Linked DNA regions of Homo sapiens: all the other regions are linked to region 2. The links come from fine-mapping of genetic effects on gene expression. A gene starts in region 2. Each other region holds a variant in brackets. All regions are shown on one strand. Distances are between the middles of the regions. Region 1 overlaps KIF15 (kinesin family member 15). Region 2 holds the start of KIAA1143. Region 3 overlaps TGM4 (transglutaminase 4).

Region 1 (4,324 bases), 60 kb after region 2:
CTGAGATCTAATTTATTGCACTGTGGTCTAAGAGACAGTTTGTTGTGATTTCTGTTTTTTTTACATTTGCTGAGGAGTGCTTTACTTTTAACTATGTGGTCAATTTTGGAATAAGTGCGATGTGGTGCTGAGAAGAATGTATATTCTGTTGATTTGGGGTGGAGAGTTCTGTAGATGTCTATTAGGTCCGCTTGGTCCAGAGCTGAGTTCAAGTCCTGGATACCCTTGTTAACCTTCTGTCTCATTCATCTGTCTAATATTGACAGTGGGGTGTTAAAGTCTCCCATTATTATTGTGTGGGAGTCTAAGTCTCTTTGTAGGTCACTCAGGACTTGCTTTATGAATCTGGGTGCTCCTGTATTGGGTGCATATATATTTAGGATAGTTAGCTCTTTTTGTTGAATTGATCCCTTTATCATTATGTAATGGCCTTCTTTGTCTCTTTTGATCTTTGTTGGTTTAAAGTCTGTTTTATCAGAGACTAGGATTGCAATCGCTGGTTTTTTTTGCTTTCCATTTGCTTGGTAGATCTTCCTCCATCCCTTTATTTTGAACCTATGTGTGTCTCTGCACGTAAGATGGGTCTCCTGAATACAGCACACCAATGGGTCTTGACTATCCAATTTGCCAGTTGGTGTCTTTTAATTGGGGCATTTAGCCCATTTACATTTAAGGTTAATATTGTTATGTGTGAATTTGATCCTGTCATTATGATGTTAGCTGGTTATTTTGCTCGTTAGTTGATGCAGTTTCTTTTTTTTTTCCTTTTTTTTTTTTAAACTTTTATTTATTTTTTATTGATCATTCTTGGGTGTTTCTCACAGAGGGGGATTTGGCAGGGTCACAGGACAATAGTGGAGGGAAGGTCAGCAGATAAACAAGTGAACAAAGGTCTCTGGTTTTCCTAGGCGGAGGACCCTGCGGCCTTCCGCAGTGTTTGTGTCCCTGGGTACTTGAGATTAGGGAGTGGTGATGACTCTTAACGAGCATGCTGCCTTCAAGCATCTGTTTAACAAAGCACATCTTGCACCGCCCTTAATCCATTTAACCCTGAGTGGACACAGCACATGTTTCAGAGAGCACAGGGTTGGGGGTAAGGTCACAGATCAACAAGATCCCAAGGCAGAAGAATTTTTCTTAGTACAGAACAAAATGAAAAGTCTCCCATGTCTACCTCCTACTACACAAACACGGCAACCATCCGATTTCTCACTCTTTTCCCCACCTCTCCCCACTTTCTACTCCACAAAACCGCCATTGTCATCATGGCCCGTTCTCAATGAGCTGCCGGGCACACCTCCCAGACGGGGTGGTGGCCGGGCAGAGGGGCTCCTCACCTCCCAGTAGGGGCGGCCGGGCAGAGGCGCCCCTCACCTCCCGGACGGGGTGGCTGGCCGGGCAGGGGGCTGACCCCCCCACCTCCCTCCCGGACGGGGCGGCTGGCCGGGCGGGGGGGCTGACCCCCCCACCTCCCTCCCGGATGGGGCGGCAGGCCGGGTGGCGGGCTGACCCCCCCCACCTCCCTCCCGGACCGGGCGGCTGGCCGGGCGGGGGGCTGACCCCCCCACCTCCCTCCCGGACGGGGCAGCTGGCCGGGCAGAGGGGCTCCTCACTTCCCAGTAGGGGCGGCTGGGCAGAGGCGCCCCTCACCTCCCGGACGGGGCGGCTGGCCGGGCGGAGGGCTGACCCCCCCACCTCCCTCCTGGACGGGGCGGCTGGCCTGGCGGTGGGTGACCCCCACCTCCTTCCTGGACGGGGTGGCTGCGGGGCGGTGACGCTCCTCACTTCTCAGAC[G/A]GGGCGGCTTCCGGGCGGAGGGGCTCCTCACTTCTCAGACGGGGCGGTCGGGCAGAGACGCTCCTCTCCTCCCAGACGGGGTTGCGGCCGGGTAGAGGCACTCCTCACATCCCAGACGGGGCGGCGGGGCAGAGGCGCTCCCCACATCTCAGACGATGAGTGGCCGGGCAGAGACGCTCCTCACTTCCTAGATGGGATGGCGGCCGGGAAGAGGCGCTCCTCACTTCCTAGATGGGATGGCGGCTGGGAAGAGGCGCTCCTCACTTTCCAGACTGGGCAGCCAGGCAGAGGGGCTCCTCACGTCCCAGATGATGGGCGGCCAGGCAGAGACGCTCCTCACTTCCCAGACAGGGTGGCGGCTGGGCAGAGGCTGCAGTCTCGGCACTTTGGGAGGCCAAGGCAGGCGGCTGGGAGGTGGAGGTTGTAGCGAGCTGAGATCACGCCACTGCACTCCAGCCTGGGCAACATTGAGCATTGAGTGAACCAGACTCCGTCTGCAATCCCGGCACCTCGGGAGGCCGAGGCTGGCGGATCACTCGCGGTTAGGAGCTGGAGACCAGCCCGGCCAACACAGCGAAACCCCGTCTCCACCAAAAAAATACGAAAACCAGTCAGGCGTGGCGGTGCGTGCCTGCAATTGCAGGCACTCGGCAAGCTGAGGCAGGAGAATCAGGCAGGGAGGTTGCAGTGAGCTGAGATGTCAGCAGTACCGATGCAGTTTCTTCCTAGCGTCGATGGTCTTTACAATTTGGCATGTTTTTGCAGTGGCTGGTACTGGTTGTTCCTTTCCATTTTTAGTGCTTTCTTTAGGAGCTCTTGTAAGTCAGGCCTGATGGTGACAAAATCTCTCAGCATTTGCTTGTCTGTAAAGGATTTTATTTCTCCTTCACTTATGAATCTTAGTTTGGCTGGATATGAAATTCTGGGTTGAAAATTCTTTATTTAAGAATGTTGAATATTGCCCCCCACTCTCTTCTGGCTTGTAGAGTTTCTGCTGAGAGATCCGCTGTTAGTCTGATGGGCTTCCCTTTGTGGGTAACCCGACCTTTCACTCTGGCTGCCCTTAACATTTTTTCCTTCATTTCAACCTTGGTGAATCTGACAATTATGTGTCTTGGGGTTGCTCTTCTCGAGGAGTATATTTGTGGTATTCTCTGTTTTTCCTGAATTTGAATGTTGGCCTGCCTTGCTAGGTTGGGGAAGTTCTCCTGGATAATATCCTGAAGAGTGTTTTCCAACTTGGTTCCATTATCCCCATCACTTTCAGGTACACCAATCAAATGTAGATTTGGTCTTTTCACATAGTCCCATGTTTCTTGGAGGCTTTGTTCATTTCTTTTTACTCTTTTTTCTCTAAACTTCTCTTCTCGCTTTATTTCATTGATTTGATCTTCACTCAGTGATACCCTTTCTTCCACTTGATCGAATCGACTGTTGAAGCCTTGTGCAGGTGTCATGAAGTTCTCATGCTCTGGTTTTCAGCCCCATCAGTTCATTTAAGGTCTTCTCTACACTGTTTATTCTAGTTAGCCATTCGTCTAATCTTTTTTCAAGGTTTTTAGCTTCCTTGCATTGGGTTTGAACATGGTCCTTTAGCTTGTCGAAGTTTGTTATTACCGACCTTCTGAAGCCTACTTCTGTCAACTCGTCAAAGTTATTCTCGTCCAGCTTTGTTCTATTGCTGGTGAGGAGCTACAATCCTTTGGAGGAGAAGAGGCGCTCTGGTTTTTAGAATTTTCAGCTTTTCTCCTGTGGTTTCTCCCCATTTTTGTGGTTTTATCTACCTTTGGTCTTTGATATTGGTGACTGACAGATGGGGTTTTGGTATGGATGCCCTTTTTGTTGGTGTTGATGCTATTCCTTTCTGTTTGTTAGTTTTCCTTCTAACAGTCAGGTCCCTCAGCTGCAGCTCTGTTGGTGTTTGCTGGAGGCTCACTCCAGACCCTGTTTGCCTGGGTATCACCAGCGGAGGCTGCAGAACAGCAAATATTGCTGCCTGATCCTTCCTCTGGAAGCTTCGTCCCAGAGGGGCACCCACCTGTATGAGGTGTCAGTCGGCCCCTACTGGGAGGTTTATCCCAGTTAGGCTACACAGAGGTCAGGGACCCACTTGAGGAGGCAGTCTGTCCATTCTCAGTGCTCAAACACCGTGTTGGGAGAACCACTGTACTCTTCAGAGCTATCAGACAGGGATGTTTAAGTCTGCAGAGGTTTCTGCTGCCTTTTGCTCAGCTATGCTCTGCCCCCACAGGTGGAATCTATAGAGGCAGCCGGCCTTGCTGAGCTGTGGTGGGCTCCACCCAGTTCAAGCTTCCAGGCCGCTTTGTTTACCTACTCAAGCCTCAGCAATGGCGGATGGCCCTCCCCCTGCCAGGCTGCTGCCTCACAGGTCGATCTCAGACTGCTGTGCTAGCAGTGAGTGAGGCTCCGTGGGCGTGGGACCCACCGAGCTAGGTGCGGGATATAATCTTCTGGTATGCCATTTGATAAGACCATTGGAAAAGCTCAGTATTATGGCAGAAGTGTCCCA
Region 2 (4,324 bases):
GATCACTTGAGCCCAGGAGGTCAAGGCTGCAGTGAGCTGTGATTGCACCACTGCACTCTAGCCTGGGCGACAGAGTGAGACCCTATCTCAAAAAAAAAAAAAAAAAAAAAGTCCTAGATGGCATCTTCTTCCAATAGAAGGCTGTTTCATCTACATTGAAAACCTGTTTAGTGTAGCCACCTTCATCAACTATCTTAGCTAGATCTGAATAATTTGCTTCTTCATCTCATACTTTTATGTTATGGAGATGGCTTCTTTCCTTAAACCTCATGAACCAACCTCTGTTAGCTTCACACTTTTCTTCTGCAGCTTTCTCACATGTCTCAGACTTCACAGGATTTAAGAGTTAGGGCCTTGCTCTAGATTAGGCTTTGGTTAAAGGGAATGTTGTGGCTGGTTTGCTCTTCTATCCAGACCACTAAAACTTTCTCTGTATCAGCAATGTAGCTGTTTTGCTTTCTTGTCATTCATGTGTTCAATACTGATCCCTCCGGCCCTAGACAACAATAGTCAGGTGTGGCTCTTTCCTGAAGCTCCTCTTCTTCTATTTAGACCCAGGATATTTACGGCTTCTGCTTACTCTTCTTTTTTTTCTTTTTTTTGAGACGGAGTCTCGCTCTGTCGCCCAGTCTGGAGTGCAGTGGCGCGATCTCGGCTCACTGCAAGCTCCTCCTCCTGGGTTCACGCCATTCTCCTGCCTCAGCCTCCCGAGTAGCTGGGACTACAGGCGCCCGCCACCATGCCTGGCTAATTTTTTGTATTTTTAGTAGAGACGCGGTTTCACTGTTTTAGCCAGGATGGTCTCGATCTCCTGACCTCGTGATCTGCCGCCTCAGCCTCCCAGAGCGCTGGGATTACAGGCGTGAGCCACCAGGCCCGGCTTTTTTTTTTTTTTTTTGAGACGGAGTCTCGCTCTGTTGTCCAGGCTGGAGTGCAGCTGCGCCATCTCAACTCACTGCAACGTCCACCTCCCGGGTTCGAGCGATTCTGTCTCAGCCTCCGGAGTAGCTGGGACTACAGGCATGTGCCACCATGCCCGGCTAATTTTTGTATTTTTAGCAGAGACGGGGGGTTTCACCATATTGGCTATTGGCTCTGCTGGTCTCGAACTCCTGACCTCAGGTGATCCGCCCACCTAGGCCTCCCAAAGTACTGGGATTACAGGCGTGAGCCACTGTGCCCGACCTTCTCTATATTATTTTTATTTATTTTTAATTAACAAAGCATAGAAACAGATTCAGGACATTCCTCCGAAGACGTTCCAGACTCGAGTCCTAGGACATGGTTGGGGCGGGGGTCATTTGATCGAGTGGCCTGTGTCCTTATCTGGAATACGGGACGACGCTGTAACTCTAACTCACCCTGCGAACTCACAGCTTTTGAGGTAAACAAGTGAGAAAGAAGAGACAATAAAGTGATCTTTCTTTACCATCTACCAAGGACCAGGTGGTTTACACGTCAGTTCATTTTCAGGAACACAGCAGCGCTCTGAAAACTACAGAGCTTCCTGGGCGTAGGGGGCTGTGGTCGCTTGAAAAGAACCAGCCTGGGGGTCCGAGTTCCACCGGAATTGGGTTCGAGCGCGGGTGAAAAGAGGGACCCGACAGCACCCACCCTCCAAGTAGAGGCAAAAGTTGAAAGTGGCGGGCTGGCTGCGCTTCCGAAGAAACACGACTGGCGAAGGCTCACCTTAGTCTCTACGGTGGGTCCCTCCCTGTAGCCGACCCGTTCCTTGAAGCGGGCCAGAAACGCCGGCTCGGCTGGCCGCACGTACGATACCTGGTTCCGCTTGCTCATGGTAGCTCTGGGTAAAGACAGAAGACAGGTTCCGCGACGGATTCGCGACGATACAGAGGCGCTTAGCTGTGACGTCACTGGGCCACGCCCCCGATGCGTAGGCCGGGCAACATGGCGGCCTCCATGCGGGCGTCAACGTCCGATCCAAGCGCCAAATTCAAATTTGCGGCCATCTTGAGCGGGCGGAATTCAGTCGCGCGCGGTGCAGTCGGGAGGTGGAGGCACCGGCTGCATTGTTTTCGGGATCGAGGGGTGAGGGCGCTATGGCACCCGGCTGCAAAAGTAAGTCTGGGCCCCCGGCTTCGTTACCCTATTTTTGCCCCCAAATACAGCTGTGAAAGGATGGCAGCCTCGGACCGCCCGCAAGGTTCTTGCTAGGCATGAACTGCAGGAGCTGAGTGACCGGCGGGGACGTTTGGGAATCCCGCTCTGTCGCTCAAAGACAATACGCTAGCCGAAAAGCTCATCCCTTCCTTCAGTGTCCTGTGCGCATGCCAGGAGTCTGGCGCAGTTCTAGGCGCTCGGGATGAGCAGTGGACCTGACGTTCTTCCCTTTCTTTCCCTTGGTTCTGCTGTTTCTTCGCAGGCCTCTTCCCACATCCCGACCAGGGCTACCTCTCTAGATATCCTTGTCTCAGGATCGGCTTTTGCTCCCACCAGCTTCTGCGTATTTCTACATTTCTGACCTTCCTATAGGGAAGGGTTTATTTATATTCCAAACATTTCTTTCTCCTCTTTCCTTAAATAAATGGAATGTTAAAACACAGATGTCAGCAATGTCTTTATGTTCTCACAGTCTCTATTTTCACTTAAAGGAGACCCGTCCGATTTCTTTCTCTTTTTCACGGAGGAGAGCACTGTCATTTTGCTTATGATAAACCCTACAGTTTTCACTAACGTAGTCATTTGCTGTGCCTGTGTACGTGCTCCACTTCTCACATTGCCACATCTCTTAAGGAGTCTTATTTTTGTAAACCTGATTATGAGCTGATTTAATGGGATCTTTGTGAGTGGTCTGAATGGTAATGAGGAGAGGCCTGGATTAGATGATTAAGAATTTGTGAACTTCTGTCATTTGAGCTTTCCAACGCCGTTAATGTTTCTAGCTTTCTGTCAATTGTAGTCGTTTTTGATGGGTTTGTTGTTTCATTAATCTTTTAGGTCGATCACACCTAATCGGAACACCTCCTTATGCTACCTTTTTGCATATAAAATATTCCTTTTCCTTTCATCATTTTCAGTATTCAAGGACTATGAGCTCACAAAATGGTACCTTATTGGAGAGAAATGTTCATCCTGCTTTCTGAACAATCATACTGTTTGTTCTTTGTTTCCACTTTATGGATCAGTCACTAAATCTGGACTCAAGCAAAAAATTTGATGCCTGTTAAATAAGTAAAACATCTGCTTATTTAATGAGATATATGTATGTGACTGAGGGCTCTTGTCTGAAAACCAAATTTGAGAACCTTTCTAAAGTGGTGGGAGCACTCTCCTTTATGATGGTGGTGATGCCATGGGGAACTTTTCCACTCCTTTAAGTTTGTTGGCAAAATTGAGGTTGATGACTTCCCAGTTAAAGTGCTTCTTGCATTCCCAGCAGCCCAGAGGCCTGGAGCATGAAGTGGGAACACATGGGAGAAGAGAGCCCGTGCAGTGGTCTTTGCAACTTTTACTTTGTGCCCCGAAGGCTATCTCTCTCTCTCTTTTTTATTTTTGAGACAGAGTCTTGCTCTATTGCCGGGCTGGAGTGCAGTGGTGCGATATTGGCTCACTGCAACCTCCGCCTCCCGGGTTCAAGAGATTCTCCTGCCTGAGTCTCCCAAGTAGCTGGGATTACAGGCACGCGCCACCATGCCCAGCTAATTTTTTTATTTTTAGTAAAGCCGGGGTTTCACTGTGTTGGCCAGGATGGTCTCGATCTCCTGACCTCGTGATTTGCCCACCTTGGCCTCCCAAAGTGCTGGGATTACAGGCATGAGCCACCACACCCGGCCCCATGAAGGCTATCTCTAGTGACATCATTGACACCATGAGTTGCTGACTGTGAAATCAGAGAAATGAAAAAGTGAAATATACGATTCCCCCCTTTTTTTTTTTAAAGACAGTGTTGCTCTGTCACCCAGGCTGGCTGGAGTGCAGTGACGCAATCTTGGCTCACTGCAATCTCCACCTCCTGGGTTCAAGCAGTACTCGTGCCTCAGCCTCCCAAGTAGCTGGGACTACAGGCGTGCACCACCATGCCCTGCTAATTTTTTGTATTTTAGTAGAGACAGGGTTTCACCATGTTGCCCAGGCTGGTCTTGAACTCCTGAACTCAAGCAATCCACCTGCCTTGGCCTCCCAAAGTGCTAGGATTACAGGCGTGAGCCACTGCACCTGGCCTAAGATTCCCTTTCTGAACCCAATCATGTTTGGGCAAATGACTGATGAGTATTTATCTAGACTGCAGAGTAAAGCATCCAATGGTCTGTTTTAAAGCAGGAAGACTCTTTAAAAGACTTACTGTTTTGTTGAGGTATAGCTT
Region 3 (4,000 bases), 130 kb after region 2:
CTAGTTGGGAGGCTTAGGTGGGAGAATCACTTGACCCCAGGAGTTCAATGCTGCAATGGCACTCAAGGCTACTTCTGCCATCGCCAGCACCAGCTTCTCTCCAGAGGGTGCTGGACATCTTGCAGCCTCAAATGTGGCACATCCTATGTCAACCCTTTTCCACACCTGCCCTTTCTCCTGGGGCCTTCCTGAAGTCAAAAGCCATCAGATGCCCATGCTAGAAGCCAGTTGCACTCCAGCCTGGGTGAGAGAGAAGGACTCTGTCTCAAAAAAAAGGGGGAAGAGTAGAGCTGGGATTTGAACTGAGAGCCTATTGCTCCTATGAGTTATAATAATAAGCATCTCATGGGAGGACCTTGGACCACAAATGGAAGTGTATTGTGACAAGGATGAGAATTATTATTCTTGGTACCATTGTGGCTACAGCAATATTGATGTATCCTAATTATCTCTCCAGCTATTATTTATCCTAAAAGGCTGGATAGAGGCCTGGACGCCCTTGGACCAATGGCCTTCTGGGACTCTGGCTGCCTGTATTCCAAGAGAAAGGTGTTTTTTTTTGCTCCAAAAGACAGCTGACATTTAACCTTTCCCCTGAAGTTCCAGACACTGGGCTAGGCACCTGTATTAGTCCATTCTTGTACTACTCTACTACTCTAAAGAATACCTGAGACTGGGTAATTTATAAAGGAAAGAAGTTTAATTGACTCACAGTTCCACATGGCTGGGGACACCTCAGGAAACTTACAATCATGGCAGAAGAGGAAGTAGGCACATTTTACATGGTAGCAGGTGAGAGAGAGCGAGAAAGAGCAGGGGAAACTGCCTTATAAAACCATCAGAGCTCATGAGCACTCACTGACTATCATGAGAACAGCATGGGGGAAACTGCCCCCATGATTCAATCACCTCCCACCAGGTCCCTCACTCAACATGTGGGGATTATGGGGATTACAATACGAGACGAGATTCGAGTGGGGACACAGAGCCAGCCATGTCAGCACCTTATGCGTACTTTATCCACAGCATCTTCCCAACAACCTGGAGATGGTATCACCTCCAGGCTGTGGTGAAGCAAGTGGTGAAGGGAGTGAATCTCAGGGAGGTGAAAATGCCCAGTCTCTCCAGGGCCCTTGCAAGACGTGCCAAAACTTCATGCTGTATGGAGCTGCTTTTCTGTCTCATGCATCCTGCCCTTGCAGGGGCGCTCCTGGCTGTCCAGGGTCCTGACCATTCCTTGTCTCCAGGCTGGTTCCAGATGGGATGAGTTGTTAGGACTGACGGATTCTTCTGGGAAGCATTTGTAAGATTTGGGATCTGGCCAGAGGGGGAGATGTCCACCTTATCTTATGGTTTGCTCAGGTCACAGTGGCTGTCACCAGTTCCCCCAATGCCATCCTGGGCAAGTACCAACTAAACGTGAAAACTGGAAACCACATCCTTAAGTCTGAAGAAAACATCCTATACCTTCTCTTCAACCCATGGTGTAAAGGTACTGTGAATCTCAGGTCTGCTGGGGAATGGCAGGTGACCCCGG[C/T]AAAACCTGCTATGTGCAATGCATAGTCTATGAGCTTTTGTTTGCTCTCAAGGTACTTGCAAACTAGTTTAAGGGATGTGACCCAGGAACAGATCACAGACACCAATGGAGCGTTTTCTTTGTGACCAGGCCCCTTAGAATGGAGGTCCTTATTCCCTGTTTCCACTTCTCCCCAGTGCCTCGCCCTGCCCCAGCTGGCTTCTGCCTCCACCACTGTACAGAGGCTGCCTTCGTGGGGGTGGGGAGGGGCCACCAAGGACTTCTTCCTTGCCAGCTCCAGGTCAGGGCCTGAATTGTGGTTGGTTCCTCCCTTCTGCTCCCTTAGTTCTGTTCTCTTCTCTCCACTTCCTCATGTACCCACCTCATTTCTTCCTGTGGCTACACTGGAGCCTTTATGTAAATGGTGCTTGAGGCTACTTCTGCCATTACCAGCACTGGCTTCTCTCCAGAGGGTGCTGGACATCTTCTTGCAGCCTCAAATGCGGCACATTCTATGTCAACCCTTTCCACACCTGCCCTCTCTCCTGGGGCCTTCTTGAAGTCAAAAGCCATCAGGTACCCATGCTAGAAGCCAAGGAGCTCTTTTTTTTTAACTTGTATTTGGAAATGATTTTGAGCTCACAGAAAAGTGGCAAAAATGATGTAATGAACAACCTATACCCTTTATCATCCAGGCTCACCTGTTGTTAACATTTTGCTCCATTTGCTTAATCATTTTCCCTCCCTCCCTCCTCTACACACACACACACACACACACACACACAAGCTTTTTATTTTTGAACCATTTGAGAGTAAGTTACATATAAGTTGGTTCTTTACAACCCCTAAACCCTTCAATGTGTATTCCCTAAGAACAGGGATATTCTCTCATATAACCACAGTACAGTTATCAACTTCAGTAAATTAAGTGTTAGCAGCCAGGCGTGGTGGCTCACGCCTGTAATCACAGCACTTTGGGAGGCCGAGGTGGGCGCATCACGAGGTTGGGAGATCGAGACCATCCTGGCTAACACGGTGAAACCCCATCTCTACTAAAAATACAAAAAAATTAGCCGGGCATGGTGGCGGGCGCCTATATTCTCAGCTACTAGGGAGGCTGAGACAGGAGAATGGCGTGAACCCGGGAGGCAGAACTTGCAGTGAGCCGAGATTGCACCACTGCACTCCAGCTCTGTCTCAAAAAAGGAAAAAAAAAAATAGGCCAGGCGCGGTGGCTCATGCCTGTAATCCCAGCACTTTGGGAGGCCAAGGCAGGCGGAACACAGGGTCAGGAGATCAAGACCATCCTGGATAACATGGTGAAACCCTGTTTCTACTAAAAATACAAAAAATTAGCTGGGCCTGGTGGCATGCACCTGTAATCCCAGCTACTTGGGAGGCTGAGGCAGGAGAATCGCTTGAACCTGGGAGGTGGAGGTTGTAGTGAGCTGAGATCACGCCACTGCACTCCAGCCTGGGTGACAGAGCGAGACTCTGTCTCAAAAATAAATAAATAAATAAATAAAAATAAATAATTAAAAAAATAAGTGTTAGCATAACACTTTCATCTACTATCTATATTCCAGTTTGGTCACTTTTTTTTTAATTTTTTTTTTTTTTTTTGAGACGGAGTTTCACTCTTGTCGCCCAGGCTGGAGTGCAATGGCGCAATGGTGCGATCTTGGCTCGCTGCAGCCTCTGCCTCCTGGGTTCAAGCAATTCTTCTGCCTCAGCCTCCCAAGTAGCTGGGATTACAGGCACATGCCACCACACCCAGCTAATTTTTGTATTTTTAGTAGAGACAGGGTTTCGCCATGTTGGTCAGGCTGGTCTCGAACTCCTGACCTCAGGTGATCTACCTGGCTTGGCCTCCCAAAGTGCTGGGATTATAGGCATGAGGCACCGCACCCAGCCGGTCACTTGATTTTATCATGTACTTTATAGCATTGTTTTCCCTCCAGTACAGGATCCAATCTAGAGTCACATTTTGCATGTAGTTATGTTTACCTCCTTTAATCTGGAACAATTTCTTTATCTTTCTTTGTCTTTTTTGACATATTTTTGAGGACTAGAAGTCCCCTTTTTTAACAGATCATTCATCATTTGGGTCTGTCTGATGATTCATCATCTTTAGATTCAGGTTACGCAGTCCTTGCTGGATATTATGTAAACGACATGTCCTTCTTGGAAAATCATATCTGGAGGCACTGCCTGCCCCTCATTGGGAATGTTAAATGTGATCATTTGGTCAAGGTGTTGTCCAGTTTTTCTGCTATATAATTACTATCTTTTTCTTTTTAACGAGTAGTCTATGTGGACACATTTTAAGACCATCCAAACATCCTGATCCTTATTAAAATTCTCCACCCCTAGATTTAGCATCCACTGATGGTTCTTGCTTCAACCATTCTTCACTGTGATGGTTGCACAGTGATTTTCCAAGGCCAGCTCTCCACCATGTTTACCTGCTAGCCCCTGGCATTT

Evidence for each region. PIP is the estimated chance that this variant, and not a neighbour inherited with it, causes the effect. A credible set is the group of variants that fine-mapping cannot tell apart.
Region 1: its variant is the best candidate, but not a certain one, in a credible set for the expression of KIAA1143 in lung (TOPMed, PIP 0.79).
Region 3: its variant is the best candidate, but not a certain one, in a credible set for the expression of KIAA1143 in monocytes (BLUEPRINT, PIP 0.57).

Annotation. Positions count from the first base shown.
Region 1 is chr3:44,819,574-44,823,897 of GRCh38, forward strand. The region is part of intron 20 of KIF15 (kinesin family member 15); the gene reads left to right. Among named protein-coding and RNA genes, the nearest start is that of MIR564, 40 kb to the right of the region's middle. The variant G/A (reference allele first, on the strand shown) is at 1,795.
Region 2 is chr3:44,759,806-44,764,129 of GRCh38, forward strand. KIAA1143 reads right to left here and starts at 1,814. Exons shown (of 3, transcript NM_020696.4): 1 at 1,690-1,814. The coding sequence starts at 1,797. It overlaps KIF15 (kinesin family member 15), which reads left to right and starts at 1,989. Exons shown (of 35, transcript NM_020242.3): 1 at 1,989-2,079. The coding sequence starts at 2,061. RefSeq lists enhancers at 327-969, 1,760-2,039.
Region 3 is chr3:44,889,241-44,893,240 of GRCh38, forward strand. It overlaps TGM4 (transglutaminase 4), which reads left to right. Exons shown (of 14, transcript NM_003241.4): 4 at 1,363-1,492. Among named protein-coding and RNA genes, the nearest start is that of TGM4, 17 kb to the left of the region's middle. The variant C/T (reference allele first, on the strand shown) is at 1,538.